Regions from separate parts of the Homo sapiens genome. Here region 1 is linked to region 2. The links come from fine-mapping of genetic effects on gene expression. A gene starts in region 2. The other region holds a variant in brackets. All regions are shown on one strand. Distances are between the middles of the regions.

Region 1 (11,651 bases), 170 kb before region 2:
TTACAGGTGTGAGCCACTGTGCCTGGCCAAAAAAAATTTTTTGAGACAGTCTCTGTCACTTAGGCCAGAGTACAGTGGTGCGATCTCAGCTCACTGCCCCTTTGACCTCCCAGGCTCAATTGATCCTTCCACCTCAGCCTTCCAAGTAGTTTGGACTACAGGCATGTACCACCATTCCTGGCTAATTTTGTTTATTTTTTGTAGAGATGAGGTTTCAGTATGTTGCCCAGACTGGTCTTGAACTCCTGGACTCAAGTGATCCTCTCGCCTTGGCCTCCCAAAGAGCTGGGATTACCCAAGTGTGAGCCACCTCACTCAGCCAAATGTTCCTTGATTTTTATTATTATTATTCAAAATATAATACAGAATGAATCTGCATGAAGTATGAGTGAAAGCTTTTTGAAATGTCATCTCAGAAGGGGAGGAATGCATCCCTTTGAAACCCTAGAGCCAGCAGGTTTTAAAATGAGAAGTGCCTTTCAGACACTCACTGTTACATCCTGGTCATTCTATAAACTCAAAGCTAATTTTCTCAGAATAAGTTGAAGATACTTTTATTTTGTAGGCTATGGTTGTTTTTGTTTTGTTTTTTTTCTTTGTTTTTTTTTTTTTTTTTTTTGAGACAGACTCTCACTCTGTCACCCAGGCTCAAGTGCAGTGGTGCGATCTCGGCTCACTGCAACCTCTGCCTGCTGGGTTCAAGGGATTATCGTGCCTCACCCTCCTGAGTAGCTGGGATTATAGGCATGCGCCGCCATGCTCAGCTAATTTTTGTATTTTTAGTAGAGACAGGGTTATGCCATGTTGGCCAGGCTGGTCTTGAACTTCTGACCTCAGGTGATCCACCTGCCTTGGCCTCCCAAAGTGCTAGGATTTCAGCCATGAGCCACTGTGCCAGGCCTGTTTTTGTTTTTTTGTTTTTTGTTTTTTTGGTTTTTTGAGATGGAGTCTCGCTCTGTCACCCAGGCTGGAGGGCAGTGGTGCAATCTCAGCTCACTGCAACTTCCGCCTCCCAGATTCAAGTGATTCTCCTGCCTTAGCTTCTCGAGTAGCTGGGACTACAGGCACCCGCCACCACAGCTGGCTAATTTTTCTATTTTTAGTAGAGACAGGGTTTCACCATGTTGGCCAGGCTGGTCTCGAACTCCTGGCCTCAAGCAATCCACCTACCTCGGCCTCCCAAAGTACTGGGATTACAGGCGTGAGCCACCGTGCCCCGCCTATTTTGTAGGCTATATTTATGACTACAATTATTGTGTGAATTATCTTAATTGACTCATTTACTCAGCCTTTAAAACCACTGTAGGGTAAGAAAATAGTATAAACAGGCCAGGAGCGGTGGCTCATGCCTGTAATCCCAGTACTTTGGGAGGCCGAGGTGGGCAGATCACGAGGTCAGGAGTTCAAGACCAGCCTGGCCAACACGGCGAAACCCCATCTCTACTAAAAATACAAAAATTAGCTGGTTGCTATTTTATTTACTGTCCCTGGTGTAAGAACATGTCAGCCTTGATGTTAATTGCACAAATTATAGTCTATGATGCACATGGCACTTTTGCCTGTCCTGGAGGATTGCCTTTAATTAACTGGCTTCCTAGAACATGTATACCTATTCACTATGGTATATAAGCTTTGGGTCTGGGGAGTAACAGCACAGAAATCTACCTGTCTTGTGGCTGCCCAAGACTATGCTTCTGTGTGTAAGTTCCCTCAGTCAATCAACCAATACTGACAAATTGGATTTGTCTGCCTCCTCCTTTGGCTCCTCAGCTCCTTCGGCATTTGGAGTTCACTTTGCATATACAGCCGTTTCACTGGACAGAGGACAACAAAGTAGAAGAGCATATGAGGTGGAGGCTATTGTGCTGACCATCTTATAAAATACAACCTGCCACAGAGGGAATGGGTTTTGGAACTAAACCAGATCGGAGAGAGCAAGCTGTAATGTCCTTTATGTCCTACCTTCAGACATCACACTCCATCATTTCTGCAATATCCTATTGGTTACAGGGGTCAAGTTACTGACACTTCAATGTGGGAAGAGACTGTCCAGGTGCATTAATACCAGAAGATGATATTGAGGGTCCACCTTGGAGGCTAGCTACCACATTGACTTTTGGCCAATAGGATCAAGTAACGACTGTGTGAACCTCTGGATTTTGAAGATAGCAATAAAAATTACCTTTTGGGGGAAAGTAGTTCATACTTCTTAGCTATTACTGGAATCCATGACTTCTCCAACTACCAGGGCTTGCCAGGCTGTACTTCCAGCAAATTATCAACCCTATTTGAAAAGTGAGACTGTGTGGTGCTATGATGTCAGGCTGCCTGAAGTAGAGACTTCCTGTCTCTACTTACCTTAGAGTTGTTGTGAGGATTAAATAACACATATAGAAGTCTTTTTTTTTTTTTTTTTTTTCAGAATCAGATCTCAGCCAGGCACGGCGTTTCACGCCTGTAATCCCAGCACTTTAGGAGGCTGAGGCAGGCGGATCACGAGGTCAGGAGATTGAGACCATCCTGGCCAACATGGTGAAACCCCATCTCTACTAAAAATACAAAAATTAGCTGGACGTGGTGGCATGTGCCTGTGATCCCAGCTACTCAGGAACCTGAGGCAGGAGAATCGCTTGAACCAGAGAGTCGGAGGTTGCAGTGAGCCCAGATCGCACCACTGCACTCCAGCCTGGTGACAGAGGGAGACTCTGTCTCAAAAAAAAAAAAAAAAAAAGACTCAGATCTCACCCTGTTGCTCAAACTAGAGAGCAGTGGCGTGATCACAGTTCACTGCAGCCTCGAACTCTTAGACTCAAGCAATCTTCCTACCTCAGCTTCTCGAGAAGCTGGGACTACAGGCTCAAGCCACTATGCCCAGCTACATGTAGAAGTCTTTAGAACAGTGCTTGGTACATAGTATGCACTCAATTTTGTAAGCTATTATCATCTATGACTTCTACAGAATCAACATTTTATGTTTCCTAAGAAGGAAGGTGATAGAGGCATAAATTAGAATGAACATGTATGTTTACTTGTTTTTTTGCTTCCGAAGTCACTTTAGTCCTATGTCACTTCTAGGCCGTCAGACCATTATTGCAACCCACAACTTTTATACCTCTTTTTCAACTCCACATTACCCACCTCATATATGCCACTTTATTGCGTTGATTTCTAGAGTGTCATTTAAGTATGTGTGTCTCTGTGTGTGTGTATAAAATTGGCATACACAAAAATAACCCTCAGTGCACAATGAGTTTTGACAAGTATATGCAGCTGTGTAATCACCACCATAATCAAGACATGGAACATATTCATCAACCCCAAAAGTTCCCTTGAGTCCTTTGGTGCCCTTCCCTCCACACCAGCCTTTATGCAACCACTAATCTGATTTATATTCCTATAGCTTTGCCTTTTCAAGAATGTCATGTAGCCAGGTGCGGTGGCTCACGCCTATAATCCCAGCACTTTGGGAGGCCAAGGTGGGCGGATCACGTGAGGCCAGGAGTTGAAGACCAGCCTGACCAACATGGCGAAACCCCATCTCTACTAAAAATACAAAATGAGCCAGGCATGGTGGCACATGCCTGTAATCCCAGCTACTCGGGAGGCTGAGGCAGGAGAATCGCTTGAGCTTGGGAGGCAGAGGTTGCCGTGAGCCGAGATTATGCCATTGCACTCCAGCCTGGGCGACAAGAGTGAAACTCCATCTCAAAAAAAAAAGAGAATGTCATATAAATAAAATCATATAGGATATGGCCTTTTACGTCTGACTTTTTTCACTTAGCGTATGTGTTTGAGATTCATCCGTGTTTTTGCATGTCTCAGTAATTTATTCCATGTCTCAGTAGTTTCTTTTTATAGCTGAATAGTTTTCCACTGTATGGATGTACCACAGTTTATCTCTTCAGCAGTTGATGGACACTTGAGCTGCTTCCAGTTTTTGGTTATTACGAATAAAGCTGCCGTAAACATTTGCATACAGGTCTTTTAATAGAAATGTGTTTTTATTATTCTTGGGTAAATATATAGCAGTGGAGCTGCTGAATTGCTGGGTTGTATGGTAAATTTATTCTTAACTGTATACGAGACTGTAAAACTATTTTCCAAAGTGACTGTACCATTTTGCATCCCCACCAGCAATATATGATGAGTGCTAATTTTAATACAGTATTATTTGCAACCTAAGTGAATTTCCCCATTAACTCCTCCCTACCAGTCCCCAGGAAGCTCACCATACTGATAGTAATAGTGATACTTCATGATCTTGGCTTATTGCAACCTCTGCCTCCCGGGTGCAAGCCATCCTCCCACCTCAGCCTCCCGAGTAGCTGGGATTACAGGCCTGTGCCACCATGCCCAGCTAATTTTTGTATTTTTTGTAGAGACAGGGTTTCACCATGTTGTCCAGGGTAGTCTTGATCTCCTGAGCTCAAGTGATCCATCCTTTTGGCCTCCCAAAGTGCTGGGATTGCAGACATGAGCCACTGCACTTGGCCCTATTCTGACTTTTAATAACATAGATTTAATTTGGCCAGTTTTGAACTTAATAAAGATGAAATGATACAGATTGTACTCATTTTATGTCTAGCTTCCTCTTCTCCTTTTTTTTTTTTTTTTTTTTTTTTTTTTTAAGAGACAGGGTCTCGCTGTGTCGCCCAGGCTGGAGTGCAGTGGTGCAATCATAGCTCACTGCAGCCTTGACCTCCTGGCCTCAAGGATCCTCTCACCTTGATCTCTCAGGTAGCTAGGACTACAGGTGTGCACCACTGTGCCTAGCTAATTTGTGTCTGGCTTCTTTAGCTATGCATTGTTGGGAAGAGGTCACCTATGTTGTTCACACAGCAGTAGGCCATTTATTTTTGTGCTTTATAATATCTGTTTATACAAACCTCTGTTGATGGATATTCGAGTTGTTTACAGTTTGGAACTAGTAAAAATAAATACTGCTATGAACTTCATAATAACACCAAATTGGAAACAATGCAAACATCCATCAATAAGAGAATGGATAATCAAACTGTAAGTATATTTATATGAGGAAATACTAATGAGTAATAAAAAAAGACCAAACTACTGATATATGTGACATCATGGATAAATCTCAAAAACATTGTGTTAATTGAAAAAAGCCAAACACTAAAGAATATATAAAGTATGAAGTCCAAGAGCAGACAAAGCTAATCTGTAGTGACAAAAATCAGAAAGTAAAGTCCAGGTGCAGTGTGGCTCATGCCTGTAATCCCAGCACTTTGAGAGGCTGAGCCAGGCGGATCATTTGAGAGGCCGAGGCGGGTGGATCATTCGAGACCAGCCTGACTAACATGGTGAAACCCTGTCTCCACTAAAAATACAAAACAAATTAGCTGGACATGGTGGCGCATGCCCATATTCACAGCTACTTGGGAGGATGAGGCAGGAGAATTGCTTGAATCACGAGGTGGAGGTTGCAGTGAGCCAAGATCGTGCCACTGCACTCCAGCCTGGGCGACAGAGTGAGACTCCATCTCAAAAAAAAAAAAAAATCAGTAAGTAACTTCCAGTGATGAGGGAAATGGATTAAAAAGGAGCATAAGTCAAGGAAACTTTCTGGGGTGATGATAAAAATGTTTTATCTCTTGATTTGGGTGTGGCAGTTACATGGATGTGTACAAGTGTCAAAATCCATTGAGCTGAACACTTACTATCTGTGCATTCGATTGTATATCAATTATAACTCAATAAAAATTAAATGTAAGGGCTGGGTGTCATAGCTCACTCCTGTAATCCCAGCACTTTGGGAGGCCGAGGTGGGTGAATTGCTTGAGCCCAGGAGTTTGAGACCAGCCTGGGCAACATGGCAAGACCACATCTCAACAAAAAAATACAAAAATTAGCCAGGTGTGGTGGTGCGTGCCTGTAGTCCCAGCTACTTGGAGGCCTGAGGTAGGAAGATGGCTTGAGCCAGGGAGATTGAGGCTGCAGTGAGTCGAGATCACGCCACTGCACTCCAGCCTGTCTCCGAAAAAAAAAAACAAAAAGTAAATAAGTATAGAAAAATGCTGCTTGGTCCTAAAAATGCTCCTATGAACTATACCTGATTTTTGGAACACGCATAGTTGGGTATATAGTTAGGAGTAGAATTGCTGGGTCAGAAGGTGCATGGGAATCCTGGCTCTGTCACTTAACAGCTGTATGACATTAGGCAAGTACCCAGAATCTCTAGTTTCTTTATCCGTACCAAGGAGCTAATAT[C/T]GCCTTGATGGGTGCAAACCCATGAAGACTACTTTCGTTAATTAACAAAAGTATGTAGAGCTGAGAGACATTTTCTCTAAAGCCATAGATTTTTAGAAAATTTGTTGCTCAAATTATCAGTAAGAATGGAATATATCACTCTTACCTGGAGGATCAGTTACTTTGATGCAGAAGAGCAGCCTCAATTTCTAACGCAGGTGCAGAGCTTCAGATAAGGGGTTTCCAGACACAACATTCCACATTTATCTTGGCATCATGGTTTCCAAGGAAACAGGATCTTGTTAGCTGGGGCCTGATGATAATCCCTTTACACATAGCCTGGTGTGTTTGGGGGCTATCAAAACACTGCTTCTTTAAAAATTTATCTACATTTCTTTCCCCCAAATCCTGGAATAACTCACTGTCTTCCTGTGTTTTGTGACATGCTCCATGATTCTTTTGGTGTGCAGTTTCCCTTGCAGCAGCAAGTTAATAAACTTAACTTTGTCTGACTACAGGTGGTCTTTATCAGATGGGCTTTATCTTGGAGATTACTGATAACGTACACAAAATGTGTTCATACTGCCTGGCACCTAACAGGCATTTAAGCAATGATAAAATTATTATTTTTATTATTCATGTGTTAATTCAATAAATGTTTGTTTGACATCCAGTATTTGCAAGGCACAGATTTACTGCTATGAGAGATGCTCACTGCAACCTCTGCCTCCCTGGCTTAAGCTACACTCCTGCCTCAGCCTCCCGAGTAGCTGGGACTACAGGCTCAGGCCACTATGCCCAGCTAATTTTTGTATTTTTGGTAGAGATAGGGTTTTGCCATTTTGCCCAGGCTGGTCTCGAACTCCTGAGCTCAAGCAATGATCAGCCTGCCTCAGCCTCCCAAAGTGCTGGAATTCCAGTTGTGAGCCACCGCGCCCAGCCTAAAAACCACTTTTATTTTACATGGAGAAAGAAAACAATATTTTTAATTCCTAAAAGAAAAATATCTTTACTGAACTTCACTTTAAATAGTGTCAAATGTAAATGAAAAAAATCATCAGTACTATTATATAGGTAAAAAAGTGCAATTTACATGACTTGCTTAAGATTTGACATAAAACTACAGATTCTAAGAAACGGTAAGGTTTTATAATAATAACCAAAACAGGCTGGGTGCGGTGGCTCACGCCTGTAATCCCAACACTTTGGGAAGCCGAGGCGGGTGGATCACCTGAGGTCAGGAGTTCGAGACCAGCCTGGCCAACATGGTCAAACCCCATCTCTACTAAAAATACAAAAAGTACCCGGGCGTGGTGGTACACGCCTGTAATCCCAGCTACTCGGGAGGCTGAGGCAGGAGAATCGCTTGAACCCAGGAGGCGGAGGTTGCATTGAGCCGAGATTGCGCCATTGCACTCCAGCCTGGGCAACAGAGCAAGATTCTGTCTCAAAAATAAAATAAAATAAAATAACCAAAATAAGAGTCCCCAAATGTCATCCGTCTCTTTCTAGAGACAGGGAAAAAAAATGCTCTCATAAATTCTCCAACGAAAAATAGAGATAGTCACCCTTAAAAAATCCTAAGGCTGGTGGGTGGATTGCTTGAGCCCAGGAGTTTGAGACCAGCCTGGACAACATGGCCAAACCCCAACACTACAAAAAATATAAAAATTAGCTGGGCGTGGTGGCGCACGCCTGTAATCCTAGCTACTCAGAGGTTAGGTGGTAGGACCTCCTGAGCCCAGGAGAAGGAGGATGCAGTGAGCAGAGATCGCGCCACTGCACTCCAACCTGCGTGACAGAGCGGGACCCTGTCTCAAAAAAAATAAAATAAAGAAAAAATCCTAAGGCCATATACAGGCTCATTCACTTTGGGTCTCCTTTCATCCAGGCAAGCAGCTTTCTGTCTTTGCATTTTCCAAAGACTACAAAGCAGGCTGGGGTGGGGTGGGGTGGGGTGTAGAACACAGGAAACGCAGCCAGTTCCCCTTCACTTCTCACTATCTTGATCTCCTCCCAAACCAAAATCCTATGTCTTTCCTTTTAACATAGGCTTACAAAAATGCAGTTTTCTGTGGGAACATTGAGGTCATGCATTCCAAATTACTTAAGGGAACGATTTTTAAATTTTAGGAATCTAGTTCTCCAAGATATCCCGGCTTGGGATATAGATGAACGAGCTATTTGGGAGAGATTTAGACGAGAATGAATTTTAGAGAAGTAGCGAGGTGAGGAGAGAGTCAGCTTAGCGTTTGGGTTTTGCAGTCAAATTTCAGCAAGGCGAACTAACCTCGCTGGTCTTAATTTTCTCATCGGTAAGAGGGAAAATAATAATGCTTACTTTGATGAATTACTTTACTTCAACATTTAAAAAACCGACTCTCCGTTATCTATTCTAATGATAAAAATATAGATAGAGCATCGTCCCCTGCTGTGAAAAATCTTATGAACAAGTGAATTGCGGTGAGGATTCACATAGTATGTGCTCAATAAACATTATTTTATTGTTTAGATTAGAAGAGGGGTGGAGGGAGAAATGAAAGTGGTTTGGAAACCCCAAACACTACCAAAGCCCTGGGGATGGAAGTAGAGAGGAATTTCGGGTTACGATTTGGTTCCGGGTCTGAGTTTCAACGTTGAATTCTCCCATATTTGGGCCTGAATTCTCAGAACAGAATAGGATGTAAGGGCTGAGATCATCTGGTACAGTTTTATGCAAATCGAAAATTCTTGCCTCTTGTCACTGTGCCCTGGCGAGAAACAACACCTCCACCCAAGCTCATCCAATCTCAGCCCCAACTAGGTGACGTCATCTCCCCGCCCTGCATCCCCAAGCCTCGGGGAGTCCTGTCTCTAAGCTACAGTCCCAGCTCCAGTCCCAGCTCCAGTCCCAGCGGCGCCTGCGCACTTTGGACCGGGGCGGGGAGGACGCGTGCGCGCCGCGTGAGGGCGGGGCTAGTGCGCACGCAGCCTTAGCTCCTTCCCCGCCCTTGCTCTTCCCAGTTTCTCCGTCAGCCTGCGGGTCCCGGCTGGCGGCTGCTTCCGGTAGGAGAGCGGTGTAGAGCGAGCAGGTCTCAGCTCCTCGTCATGTCATACGGTCCCTTAGACATGTACCGGAACCCGGGGCCCTCGGGGCCCCAGCTCCGGGACTTCAGCAGCATCATCCAGACGTGCAGCGGCAACATCCAGCGGATCAGCCAAGCCAGTGAGCCGGGGTACCGAGCTGGGGGGCGGGAGCTGTCCCGGGGACAGGCCTGGGTGAGGCTGCCGGGACGCAGGGCCCGGCTGGGGCTACGGCCGAGGCCACACCTGGGGCTGTCTCGGGCTGTCCACCCTGGGGGCGGTGGGCTGCCATCCCCCAATCTGTCAGGCCCGGGTTGCCCGAGGGTCCCCGGCCCCAGCTGAAGCTTGAGCTGCTTCTCTGGAGTTCTGCCCCCACGGTGCTGGGACCAAAACAGCCGACTTGACAGCCCGAGGGTGGGAAGGGGAGTGTGTGTCACCTCGAGAGCTGTGAGTGCGTTGACTTGGCGCAGTGGTCAGCCGAGTTTCTCCTGTCACCCACCTTCCTCCCCACCCACCTCGCTTTCCTCTTAGACCAGTTTGGATGGGGTTGTTTACTGATTTAGCCTTTAGGTTTACATTCTGCTCAGCCCCTGGCTCCTCGGAAATCAGCAACTTTCAATTAAGGGAAGTGGAGAGTGCATGTGTTTGGGTGACTTCATACACAGTTCTTCCTGTAATGAATTCGGAAATCAGACACAATGACTGGTATTTGAAAGGTGGGATGACTTCATTTTAATAAAGAGAATTCACCAACAGCATTTCAATTTACATTATTTTGTCTTTTGTAACAAATAATTGGGGTGTATTTTTGGATTTCAGGCAGATGAGGCTTTTGTTTTCCTTCCCTACTTAGCTGCTCTTGAACAAATCTGGTACACAGGGAAGCTAAGACACTTAGCCACAACCACATAGCAAGTAAGGCATGGTAGAGTTGTTGGTGGAATTCAGAATGCTATTGCTTGTCTTAAAACTCCCTCCTCCCCATTAGGGTCTGAGTGAAACTGTAGCTGAATGAGTCAAATACAGGGTGTTTCTTGTGCTTGAAAATCATCTTGGAGCCTTATAAACAGGAGATCAGCAGCAGCTTTACTTGGAAAGAATGGTGGTCATCATCCTTGTTGTTTATTATTGTTTTGTGAGCTTGGCGTACTCTGTTAATAGGTAGAACTAGTTAGTCCTGAATTACAATTATATTCTATATTTTAAAGAGTGTCACTTTGCTTTCGTTTTTAAACTTTTAAAAATTTTTCTTTTTTGTAGAGATGAAGTCTTGCTATGTTGGCCAGGCTGGTCTCAAACCCCTGGGCACAAGCACTTCTCCCACTTTAGCCTCCCAAAGTGCTGGGATTACAGGCGTGAGCCACTGTGCCTAGCCTAATTTTTTTGATTTAAAATATTTTTAATTTATTTTTTCGAGACAGAGTCTACTTCTGTCACCCAGGCAGAATGCAGTGATCTGAGTGAAGTGGTACAATCCTAGCTCACTATAACCTTGAATTCCTGATCAGCTTGCTGAGTAGCAAGGACTACAAGGATGCATCTACCGTGCCAGGCTAATTTTTAAATTTTTTGTAGGGATGGGGTCTCACTATGTTGCCCAGGCTCACTTTGCTTTTAAATCTAAATGTATATTGTAGAATTTGAGAAGTAGAAAGTTTCTGATCAAAAGGGATTGAGACTCTGGAAGTGAAAGGAAGAATATGTGGCCTGTTAAAATCCAGAAGTAAAAAAAATTAATATGACCACTGGTTAGAAAGTATAGTACTGTTTGTTCCAGTTTCCTTTTGTGAAGGAGCTGTAATACAGGTTAGATCAGAAAATTCTAGTTCAAGGCTGAAATTTTCTTGTTGAAGCTAAATCTAATTTTAATATCTATTTGCGAAATATTCATTCAACATGTATCCATCTATCCATCTTCGTGTGTATTTTATATATATATAAAACCAGAATACTCCCAAAGGTAGATCCGACATACAGTTTTAAATTTAAATTTAAATTTTTATTTTGAGACAGGGTCTCACTCTGTCACCCAGGCTGGTATGCAGTGGCATGATCTCAGCTCACTGCAGCCTCAACCTCCCTGGCTCAAGCAGTCCTCCTGCCTCAGCCCTACAAGTAGCTGGGACTACAGGTGTGCACCACCACGCCCGGCTAATTTTTATATTTTTTGTAGAGATGGAGTTTCACCATGTTGTCCAGTCTGGTCTTGAACTCCTGTGCTCAAGTGATCCACCCACCTTGGCCTCCGAATAGGCCAGGATTACAGGCATGAATCATCATGCCTGGCCTTCAACATATATTTATTTGAGTATGTAGTAAGTATAAGAACTGGCATGGATCTTTCAACAGGGAACCTGCAGAGTTCATAACCAAAATATAAA
Region 2 (11,651 bases):
CCACAGAGCAAGACTCCATCTCAAAAAAAAAAATTAAAATTAAAAAAAATAAATTTTTTAATTAATTAATTTTTTTTTTCGGAGTCTCATTCTGTTGCCAGGCTGAAGTGCAGTGACACGATCTCAGCTCACTGCAACCTCCAACTTCTTGGTTCAAGCGATTCTCCTGACTCAGTCTCCAGAGTAGCTCGGATTACAGCCACCCGCCACCATGCCCAGCTAATTTTTGTAATTTTAGTAGAGATGGGGTTTCACCATGTTGGTCAGAATGGTCTCGATCTCCTGACCTCATGATCCGCCTGCCTCGGCCTCCCAAAGCGCTAGGATTACAGGTGTGAGGTCACCATGCCCAGCCTATTTATTTATTTATTTATTTAATGAGATGGGCTCTTGTTGTGTTGCCTAGGCTGGTCTTGAACTCCTGGGTTCAAGCAATCCTCCCATCTTGGCCTCCCAAAGTGCTGTGATTATAGGTGTGAACCACTGTGCTCGGCTGGAGGCATCTTTTTCTAATTCACACAAAGGCCTAGAGGAGTCCCCTTTTCTACATTCACAAAGATATCTTATTGGTTACTGGTGGTGGTGATGATGGCGTCTTCAGGGGACACTGACCAAAAAGCTGAGGTATTTAAAAGAAGCCCTTGCAGGCCTGGTGTGGTGACTGATGCCTGTAATGCCAGCACTTTGGGAGGGTGAGGTGGGCGGATCCCTTGAGCCCAAAAGTTTGAGACCCACCTGGGTAACCCAGCCAAACCCCCTTTTTGCTAAATATACAAAAATTAGCCAGGCGTGGTGGTGTGCGCTTGTAGTCCCAGATACCTGAGAGGCTGAGGTGAGAGGATTGCTTAAGCCTGGGAGTTCAGGGCTGCAATGAGCCATGATAGTGCCACTGCACTCCAGCCTGGGTGACAGAGCAAGACCCTGTCTCAGAAAAAAAAAAAAAGAAAAGAAGCCCTGCATGCAGTCAAAAGCTGAGTAAGACTCCAGCACCCCTCAGATGGGCTTATGAGGAGCTCCTGTGCCCTCCCAGAACTCTCTCCCTTGTTCCAATTTCAGGTGTAACCATTGCCAACTGCCTGCTCAGCCCTGGGAGCACTGGCTGCCCTAGACTCCTTGCCTGCCCTCCTTCCCCACCAGTCCCATAGGTTACCTTCCACGCATACCTCGACATGCCCTAGATTATAAATCAGGCCACAGGCTCAGGGGCAAGAAAAGTCACACGGCTTTATTTTCATTAAATCAATAGCAGTGGGTCTCTGAGCTTTCTTCCCTCGGGACTGGCAGAAGATTCAGTCTCAGTGATTATTTTGATGCCCCTCATTTCCTTGGGGTGACCTAGGCCCTAAACAGAAATGGGGCTTTAGTCTGTAGTTGTTTGTGGACATAATATACTCATCGGCTAAGGCTACACAGTTCCTAGGGGCTGGAAATTCTGCTGCACCTCTGACCCCAGGGACTTAGCTAGGCCAGGAGCCTTGTGGTTGATTCATTTGTGCAATGCCCATGTTTTCAGCTGAATGTAAGCCCTGTGAAGGCAGAGGCTTTGCATTGTTGCATTGTTCACCACTGTCTTTTTTTTCTTTTCTTTTTCAGACGGAGTTTGCTCTTGTTGCCCAGGCTGGAGTGCAATAGCGTGGTCTCAGCTAACTGCAACCTCCACCTCCCGGGCTCAAGCAAGTCTCCTGCCTCAGCCTCCCGAGTAGCTGGGATTACAGGCATCTGCCACCACATCCAGATAATTTTTGTAATTTTAGTAGAGATGGGGTTTCACCATGTTGGCCAGGCTGGTCTTGAACTCCTGACCTCAGGTGATCTGCCTGCCTCGGCCTCCCAAAGTGCTGGGATTACAGGTGTGAGCCACCGCGCCCAGCCTGTTCACCACTTTCTAGACATCCAATATTTATTGAACCCAAGTAAATGTCCAAGGACTTCCTGTCTGAGAATCTGCTACCTTCCAGGGGCAACCTGAACTCTTAAGATCCAGCAACGTCTGTTTGCTGCCCTGGCTATGCCAGTCTCCCCTCTCTTATGACTGTTCCCTCCCTCCTTTCACTACCCCCTCTAGGAGGTCAGAGGACACACCCTGGAGGTAGCTGTCTCCAAGAAGCTGTGGCTTTCTACTCTGCCACATCCTCCTCCAAGGGAAGGGATCTTTGCTACCTACTTAGAATGGGGTTTAAAAATACAGTTAGAGGCCAGGCGTGGTGGCTCAAGCCTGTAATCCTAGTACTTTGGGAGGCCGAGGCGGGCGGATCATGGGGTCAGGAGTTCGAGACCATCCTGGCCAACATGGTGAAACCCTGTCTCTACTAAAAATACAAAAAAATTAGCCGGGCTTGGTGGCGGGCACCTGTAGTCCCAGCTACTCGGGAGGCTGAGGCAGGAGAATGGCGTGAACCCGGGAGGCGGAGCTTGCAGTGAGCCGAGATGGCACCACTGCACTCCAGCCTGGGGGACAGAGCCAGACTCCGTCTCAAAAAAAAAAAAAAAAAAAATACAGTTAGAACAGGAACTACTCAACCAATTACCCAGCCACAGCCTCTTCAGTTCCTCCCTACTACTAGTTACCAGTTCCTAAGCGTAGCCCCTTACAGCTTTTCACCAAGACTTCTGCTATGGTTTAAATGCTTGTTCGCTCTAAAGCTGGTGTTATAATTGGTTACCATTATGGAGGTATTGGGAGGTTGGACCTTTAGAAGGTGATTGGGCCATCAGGGCTCCACTCTCATGAGTGGGAGTAATGCTGTTACAAAAGGGCAAGTTTGGTCTTCTTTTGTCTTGGCCCTTTGCCAAGACATGCCATGTGAGGACTCAGCCTTTCTCCTCTCCAGAGGATGCAGCATGCAAGGCATCATCTTGGAAGAAGCGAATGGCCTTACCAGACACCCAGCCTGCTGGTGCCTTGATCTTACACTTTCCAGCCTGCAGAACTGTGAGCCAATACACTTCTGCTCTTTATTAAATACTCAGTCTCAGGTATTCTGTTATAACAGCACAGAAAGGACTATGACAACTTCCCTGCCTTAGCCTCCTTGCTTGCTGGTTTCCCCAAAAATCCATCTTCCACAGAGCCAGTGCATCTTTCTAAAATGCAAATTAGGTTGTGTCTCTGCCATAGCTCCCCACAGCTCTCAGCTCAAACAGCTGAGCACAACCTGGCTCCTGCCTGCTTCCCCAGGCTTAGCACCCCAAGCCCAATATCACCCAACTCAGCTCTCTGGGATGATTCAGCTCCTTCTGCCTGGGATACCCTCCTCCCCAGCTTTCTCCTTTTCCTGCTAACTCCTACTTGTAAATTAAGGTTAAGCTGGTGGGACAACCATATCTTACGTGCTTTGCCATGCAAAACAACAGGAAAGACCCAAGACCACCTGAGAAGTCTTCTTCCCCAAAAGTCAAACCTGAATGTCATCAAACCCTTGGCTGTAACTATCAGTTTACAGGAAATATGGGGGACAGAGGAATATGTTAAATGACACCACCAGAAAGGAATCAGCCAAATCCTCCAGAATGTGGGAAATTCACAGGACAAAGAACAAGGAAAAAATGGGGAGAGGGCAGGAGAGCTACAAATTAAGGGAGACTTAAGAGACACATCTACCAAATGCAATGTGTGGACCTTGTTTGGACCCTGATTTGAAAGAACCCGCTGTAAAAAAAAAAAAAAAAAAAAAGAGACATCAGGGAAATTTGGTGACATCAGGGAAACTGACCACATATCTGCCTGGTGGAAGTAAGGAATTACTGTTTTTCTTTTTCTTTCTTTTTTTTTTTGAGGTGGAGTCTCGCTCTGTCGCCCAGGCTAGAGTGCAGTGGCACTATCTCGGCTCACTGCAAGCTCCGCCTCCCGGGTTCAAGTGATTCTCCTGCCTCAGCCTCCCAAGTAGCTGGGATTACAGGTGTGAGCCACCACGCCTGGTGGAATTACTATTTTTTTTTTTAGATCTGATAATGTGTTAGAAAAAGAGAGTCCTAGCCGGGTGCAGTGGCTCACGCCTGTAATCCCAGCACTTTGGGAGGCCAAGTTGGGCAGATCACCTGAGGTTGGGAGTTTGAGACCAGCCTGACCAATATGGAGAAACCCCATCTCTACTAAAAATACAAAATTAGCCAGGTGTGGTGGCGCATGCCTGTAATACCAGCTACTCGGGAGGCAGAGACAGGATAATCACTTGAACCCGGGAGGCCGATTTTGCGGTGAGCCGAGATCCTGCCATTGCACTCCAGCCTGGGCAACAAGAGTGAAACTCCATCTCAAAAAAAAAAAAAAAAAGAAAGAAAGAAAAAGAGAATCCTTACCTTTTAGAGATAAATACTGTTTACGTTCAAGATGATATGATCACTGGAATTTAACATCATACAGTGAGGGCCAGGTATGATAGCTCACACCTGTCAGCCCAGTGCTTTGGGAGGCTGAGGTGGGAGGATCACTTGAAGCCAGGAGTTTGGGACCAGCCTGAGTAATGTAGTGAGATGCTGTTTCTAAAAAAAAAAAAAAAAAAAGCCAGGTGAGGTAGCGAGTGCCTATAGTTCCAGCTATTCCAGAGGTTGAAGCAGGAAGATAGGAAGATAGCTTGAGTCCAGGAGCTCGAGGCTGCAGTGAGCTATTATTATCTTGCCACTGCACTCTAGCCTGGGTGGCAGAGTGAGACAACCCCCTTCTTTTTTTTTTTTTTTTTTTTTTTTGAGACAGAGTCTTGCTCTATCACCCAGGCTGGAATGCAATGATGCAATCTTGGCTTACTGCAACTTCTACCTCCCAGGCTCAAGGGATCCTCCTGCCTCAGCCTCCCAAGTAGCTGGACTATAGACATGTATTACCATGCCCAGCTAATTTTTTTATTTTTTGTAGAGATGGTGTTTCACTATGTTGCTCAGGATGGCCTCAAACTCCTGGGCTCAAGCGATCCTCCTGCCTTAGCCTACCAAAGTGCTGGGATTACAGACATGAGCCACTGCACCCAGCCTGAGACACTTCTCTAAAAAAATACATAAATAAATAAAAGTTAAAATAATAAAAAATTTTAAAAGTTGTTTAAATAGGGCCGGGCGCGGTGGCTCATGCCTGTAATCCCAGCACTTTGGGAGGCCGAGACGGGTGGATCACAAGGTCAGGAGATCGAGACCATCCTGGCTAACACAGTGAAACCCCGTCTCTACTAAAAATACAAAAAAATAGCCGGGCGTGGTGGCGGGCGCCTGTAGTCCCAGCTACTCGGGAGGCTGAGGCAGGAGAATGGTGTGAATCCGGGAGGCAGAGCTTGCAGTGAGCTGAGATGGTGCCACTGCACTACAGCCTGGGTGACAGAATGAGACTCCGTCTCAAAAAAAAAAAAAAGTTGTTTAAATACATAAAATAATCAAAAGTGAGTATAGATGAAATAAGAGTGGCCATAAGTTCATAATTACTGAAGCTGGAGGAAGGTACTTGGGGGTTCATTACACCATTCTCTCTCCTGTTTCTGTTTGACTGTTTCCATAATACAATGTTAAGAAAGGATTAAACGTGTCACCCCCTCCTAGAAGCCCTCTCACATTCCTCAGTCTGAATTAGATCCCCCTTTCCGGGGCTTGCCAATACACCTGATGTGCTGACCGGCAATTCTGTTGTTTGCCCCTCCCTCTTGGGGGCAGGGGCTGCACTGGCAGGAGAGGTGTGGCTTCCACTTAAGGGTCCGGTATGCCTGCCTCCTCGGGCCAGCCCAGATCATACCCTGCTGGGCAAAGGAGGAAGAGCCAGAGGATCCAGACGCCTTGGAGGACTTGGAACACCTGTAACAGGACAAGGAGTTCTGCTCAGGCACGTGGCCACAGAAAACTACTTAGGAAGCCTGTGGTGAGAACAACAACAGTGCCTGAGAATCCCACGGCTCTGGGGAAGTGAGCCCCGAGGATGAGGCTGCTCGCCTGGCTGATTTTCCTGGCTAACTGGGGAGGTGCCAGGGCTGAACCAGGTACAGCACTGGGAATGTCTGCTATGCCTTTGTTTTGTACTGTGAACTCTGGGGCTGCGGGAAGCTGCTCGCAGCCAGCTTGAAGGTGCTTCTAAAGATAGCAAGGCAGGAGCTAGGCAGGGAGGCAGGTGGGGAGAGCTAGTGGGCCTTAGCAAGTGCTGTTTGAGGCTGAAGATTTTAAGTGGAGGCGCCAGCTGGCCAGGGAGGGACACCGACATTGCGAAGAGGTCTGGGTACGTGAGAGCTAGCTAATTAGTAGAGGTAGGAGGTGGCAGGAAAGATTCGTGGACTCATTCAACAAATGAGGTCCTTTCCTGTACCATACGTTATTCTAGGAGCCAGGGATATATCAGAGAAGAAAAGAAAGTCCCCGTCTCAATGAAGAATTCCTTCATCTGGGGAGAAAAAAACAAACCACACGAACAAGTAAAGTACGCAGCATTGGAGGAGATGATAAGTGTTATGGGGAAAATAAAGTAGAACAGGGAAGGCGGGTTGTGGGGAGGGGGTACTTACAAGACGTCCAGAGAAGAGCTGTCAAATCAGGTGACACTCAAGTGGAGCCTTGAGGCAGTGAGTGGGGGAGCCACATGGGTGTCCAGAACATTACAGGAAGAGAGGACAGTGCACGGGGTCTGAGGTGGACACACAGGAGATGTGCATGAGGAACAGCAAGGAAGCCCGCGTGGCTGAAGCAGGGTGGGCAGGACAAGTGGGGGTGAGGTTGGCAGATGGTGGGGTGGGGCAGGTGCCAAATCATGGATAGCCTCGAAGACTCTCTTGAGGACTCAGACATTTTTCTTTCCACGTGCCTGTAGATAGGAAGGACGCAGGCTTTTGCTCAGGGTGAAATGGGATGTCATTGGAGGGTTCTAGGCACAGGTGTAATCTATTCTGACTTCTGTATGTTTAAAAGGACCCTTGAGGCCAGACGCAGTGGCTAACATCTGTAATCCCAGCACTTTGGGAGGCTGAGGAGGGTGGATTGCTTGAGTCCAGGAGTTTGAGACCAGCCTGGGCAACATAGCAAAACCCTGACTCTACTAAAAATACCAAAAATTAGCTGGGTGTGGTAGTGGGTGCCTGTAGTGCCAGCTACTTGGGAGACTCAGCTGGGAGAATTACCTGAGCCTGGGAGGTTGAGGCTGCAGTGAGCTGTGATTGTGCCACTGCACCCCAGCCTGGGTGACGGGAATGAGACCATCTCAAAAAAAAAAAAGAAAATGAAAGAAAAAAATTCTCTTTATAGCCCCTCTGAAGTAGGTGCTAATATCATTATACCCATTTTGCAGATGAGGCAAATGAGTCTCAGAGGGGACATTGCACTTGCTGAAGATCTCCCAGCTGGGAAATGGCAGGACAAAGCCTGTGCCTGGCTGTACTATGCTTCATGTCCTCTTGGGATGGTGGGGTTTAGAGGTACTATTTTTTTCTCTTTTCTCCAAACTTGCTGGAATGTATTCCTTTTAAAGTAAATTTAAAAGGAATTCCGGGCCGGATGCGGTGGCTCACGCCTGTAATCCCAGCACTTTGGGAGGCCGAGGCGGGCGGATCACGAGGTCAGGAGATTGAGACAATCCTGGCTAATACGGTGAAACTAAAAATACTCTACTAAAAGTACAAAAAATTAGCCAGGCGTGGTGATGAGCACCTGTCGTCCCAGCTACTTGGGAGGCTGAAGCAGGAGAATGGGGTAAACCCGGGAGGTGGAGCTTGCAGTGAGCCGAGATTGCACCACTGCACTCCAGCCTGGGCGACAGAGTGAGGCTCCGTCTCAAAAAACAAACAAACAAACAAACAACAACAAAAAAAGGAATTCCGCAGCACCTGTAAGGTTTTTCCAACTCCAGGTGTCTTCCTGAAGCACAGGTGGATTCTGAGACAGGGGATCAGACAGCATCATCCCTGCTTTGCATTAAACTGTGGGATTTCTGCCTCCACTTTCCTTAGCCAGGAGCTTGGGTGGATGCCAACTTGCTGGCTCCTTCTCCTCCTACACATGTCCTGTGTAACATTTCGCTCCTTCCTCAGCTTCTAACTGCAGAGAAGCAGACAGGTTCTTCCCCTGTGGGTTAGCTTGGTAGGAAAACACTCCCTGGAAGGCCAGCCCAGGGCTGAGGGAGCAGGACCAGGGCAGGAATGGTAACACCTACCTCTGGAGCTATTGTGAACAGAGGGTATTCACTGTAGGTGGTCCGTAAATGTAGGTTTTAACAAATGAACTCCATGGGTTTTGGAGGGCCTCCATTTACAAAGGATGAATTACAATTGTGTTTTGGGGCTAATGCTAGCCTTAATAGCAAAGGACTGAAATAGAGACTGAGACCATTGTGTGGTGTGGGTTATAGGCAATAACAGACAAAAGCCACTGAATCACAGGAGTCAGACTAGGAGGGCCTTCAGGGAACCTCTGTTCAGTACTTTCATCTTATACTTGAGGAAACGGAGGCTGAGGGGCAGTGTGGCCCAGGGAATGAGTCCTAAGGCTGCCTTGCTCACCCCACAGCCAGGTGCTCTGTATAAGAGAACTCTTTTACCTGCACAACTGAGGCAGGAGGTGGGACTGGACTCCAGAGGCAGGGCTTTGACACCAGACCAGATTGAGGACTAGCTAAAATACGGCCTGGGCAAAAGCAGTTTTCAAACACACCCAGCAGTGTGGCATGTCAATTTACCTTTGCAATGGCAACACCCAGGAGTTACTGCCCCTTCTATGGCAGTAACCCAATGATTTAAAAGTTACTACCCCTTCCCTAGAAATTTCTGCATAAATGCCCCTTAATCTCCAGGCAATTAAAAGTGGGTATAAATGTGACTGCAAAACTGCCCTGAGCTGCTACTCTCTGCCTCTGGGGTAGCCCTGCTCTGCAGGAGCAGTCATGGAGCTGTACATCACCTGTTCACCAAAGCTGTTTGCTTCAACCTCAAGCTTGCCCTTGAATTTTTTCCTGGGCAAAGCCAAGAACCCTCATGGGCTAAGCTCCACTTTGGGGCTCACCTGCTCTGCATCACAAGCATCCCTCTGCTGGGTGCATTCTAATCCTCATTTTATAGATGAGGAAACTAAGGCTCAGCTCTGAAAATCCCTTGCTTAAGTTGCCACTGCCTGTATGGAAGAGCCAGGATTCAAAATAAGATGTCCCTGATTGCAGGTTTCATGCATGTCCTTGCAGAAATAACTTACTGCCTGAAGCCAGAAAACTTAGGTCCTACCTGTGGTCCTGCCTTTGAATACCTGTGTGACCTGCAACCTTTATTTTACTGTTTATAAAATAGGGATGTTAGCAGAGGAGAGATTAAATGTGATGGCCTTAAGTGAGATCATGCCAGGTACATTGTAAAATGTTGTAAAAGTTTAAGGAGGCATACACACAGATGGTCCCTGACTTACGAAGATTCCACTAAGCTGTATGATGGGGCGAAAGCCTTAGGCATTCATTAGAAACCACACTTCGAGAAGCCATACAACCACTCTGTGTTTCACTTTCAATTCAGTATTTAATACATTGCAAGAGACATTCAACACTTAATTATAAAATAGGTCTGCATCAGATGATTTTGCCCAACTGTAGGCTAATGTAAGTGTTCTGAGCTCCTTTAAGGTAGACTGGGCTAAGCTACGATGCCCTTTGGTAGGTTGGGTGTGTTGAATGCATTTTTGACTTATGATATTTTCAATTTTGGGGGACGTAGCCCCATTGTAAGTCAAGGAAAACCTGTATATATCTCCAAGGCCATGCTGGTAGGTGGTGGCAGAATATAGTGCACTGTGATCATTTCCATTCTGACGTGCTCGGCATCCCCGGTCTGCCGCTCACTCGCTCAGTTTCCTCATCTGTAAAATGAGTACATCTTAGGATGCATTTCATAATGTTGTCATGAGGCTGCATGGATAGAGTGTGTGGCACAGTGTCTGGCATTCAGTAGGTGCTAAATGAATGGCAGATGCCTTCCTGCCCCCCTGTCTCCAACCATAAGGGAACTCACCTTCTAGCCATTTTAAGAACTTAGGTTTTATAAATGACTATGACTATGGGAGTTCTCCCCACCCCTATCACAAATCATACTAAAAAGATCCCATATCATGTATGATTTTAATTTTTTTATCTTATTTTTCTTTTTTGGAGACAGGGTCTCTATCTGTTGCTCAGGCTGGAGTGCGGTGCTGCAATCATAGCTCAAGGTAACCTCAAACTCCTGGACTTTAGGGATCCTCCTGCCTCAGCCTCCCAAGTACGGAGAAATTAAATTTCTTTTTAAAAAGTAGCTGAGTGTGGTGGCATATACCTGCATTCCTAGTGTGGTGGCTCATACCTGTAATCCTAGCACTTTGGGAGGCCGAGGCAGGCAGATCACTTGAGCTCAGGAATTTGAGACCAGACTGGGCAACATGGCAAACCCCACCTCTACAAAAAAGTACAAGAAAATTTGCCAGGCCTGGTGGCACGTGCCTGTAGTCCCAGCTACTTGGGGGACTAAGGTGGGAGAATCAGTTGAGCCCAGGAGGTTGAGGCTGCAGTGACCCAGGATCACACTGCTGCACTCCAGCCTGGGTTTTTGTTTGTTTGTTTTTGTTTGTTTGTTTGTTTGTTTGTTTTTGTAGAGGCACGGTTTTGAACTCCTGGCCTCAAGTGATCCTCCCACTTTGGCCTCCCAAAGCACTGGGATTACCGGTGTGAGCCAATGCATGTGGCCCATGAGATTTTTAATATTGCTTTTGAAATGAATTGTTGATTTTGATGACTTACTTGATATTTGTAATTTTTGTCTTTCCTGCACTTTTAGAGTCAATGCATTTTTTTCCAAGTCTCAGATATTTCTGTGGGCCTTGCAGAGCTATGAGGCCTTGGGCCCTATGTCTGTTGTCCCTAGTGAGCATAAAGGCCTGGTGATCCCCTTTGGTGAAGGAGGAGGCGGGCCAGGACACTTTTTGCCTGCCCAGGGACGCGCTGTGCCCACCAGTCCTCCTCTTAGAGATGGTCATCTGGGGCAGACAGGCTCTATCTTCATCTTGTTTCCCTTCAGATGTCCTGCCTGCCCTGCCCCTGCACTTTACCTGTGGACAGTAGCCAAGGACACGCTGGGGCTGGCTGGGTAGAACGTGGCCACTCCCCACCTTGTCCTGTCTCTCATGGTGAGAGGGGGCCTTGTAGAACCCCCCAGGAACCAAATGTGGAGTAACCACTGCTTCCCATTTATGAAATCATCTCACATTTCTCATTTTAATTCTCACGAGGGCCCCAAGGGGTAGGGGGCGCTGTTATCTTGATTTTACAGAGGAGGAAACGGGCCCAGGGGAAGGTTCCGCTGTTCACACAGCTATGGGGTGGTGCAGTAGGACTCCCTCCCAGGTCTGTGGCCTCAGCTACTCACTGTACTCAATACCAAATTTATTTATCTTCTCAGTAATAAATGAATAATAATGATAGCTGAGATTGGTGTACCTTTCTATAAAACTCAAGTTATAGATGAATACTGTCTTACTGTAAAAGGTCCAAGCAGTGCGAATGTAGAAAGCCTCTTAACTTTAACAAGATCCCCAGTGAAGCATCTGAACAGTAACATTTGAGAAGTTCTGGTCTAAAGGGTAAAGCATTAAAGTACCCAGGCGCCCACACCTCCCCAGTCTCACTCCTGGCCCAAGGGGTAATTGCAGGTAACGGTATGGTGCGTTGGGATTGTCCTCTATGAGCCCTT

Evidence for each region.
Region 1: its variant is fine-mapped to the expression of SMPDL3B in whole blood (TOPMed, PIP above 0.99).

The regions. Positions count from the first base shown.
Region 1 is chr1:27,764,014-27,775,664 of GRCh38, forward strand. It overlaps STX12 (syntaxin 12), which reads left to right and starts at 9,206. Exons shown (of 9, transcript NM_177424.3): 1 at 9,206-9,412. The coding sequence starts at 9,295. RefSeq lists enhancers at 8,926-9,075, 9,042-9,542, 9,196-9,345, 9,543-10,043 and a silencer at 9,456-9,665. The variant C/T (reference allele first, on the strand shown) is at 6,229.
Region 2 is chr1:27,929,291-27,940,941 of GRCh38, forward strand. SMPDL3B (sphingomyelin phosphodiesterase acid like 3B) reads left to right here and starts at 5,710. Exons shown (of 8, transcript NM_014474.4): 1 at 5,710-5,954. The coding sequence starts at 5,894. RefSeq lists enhancers at 5,344-6,245, 11,128-11,422 and a silencer at 5,572-5,837.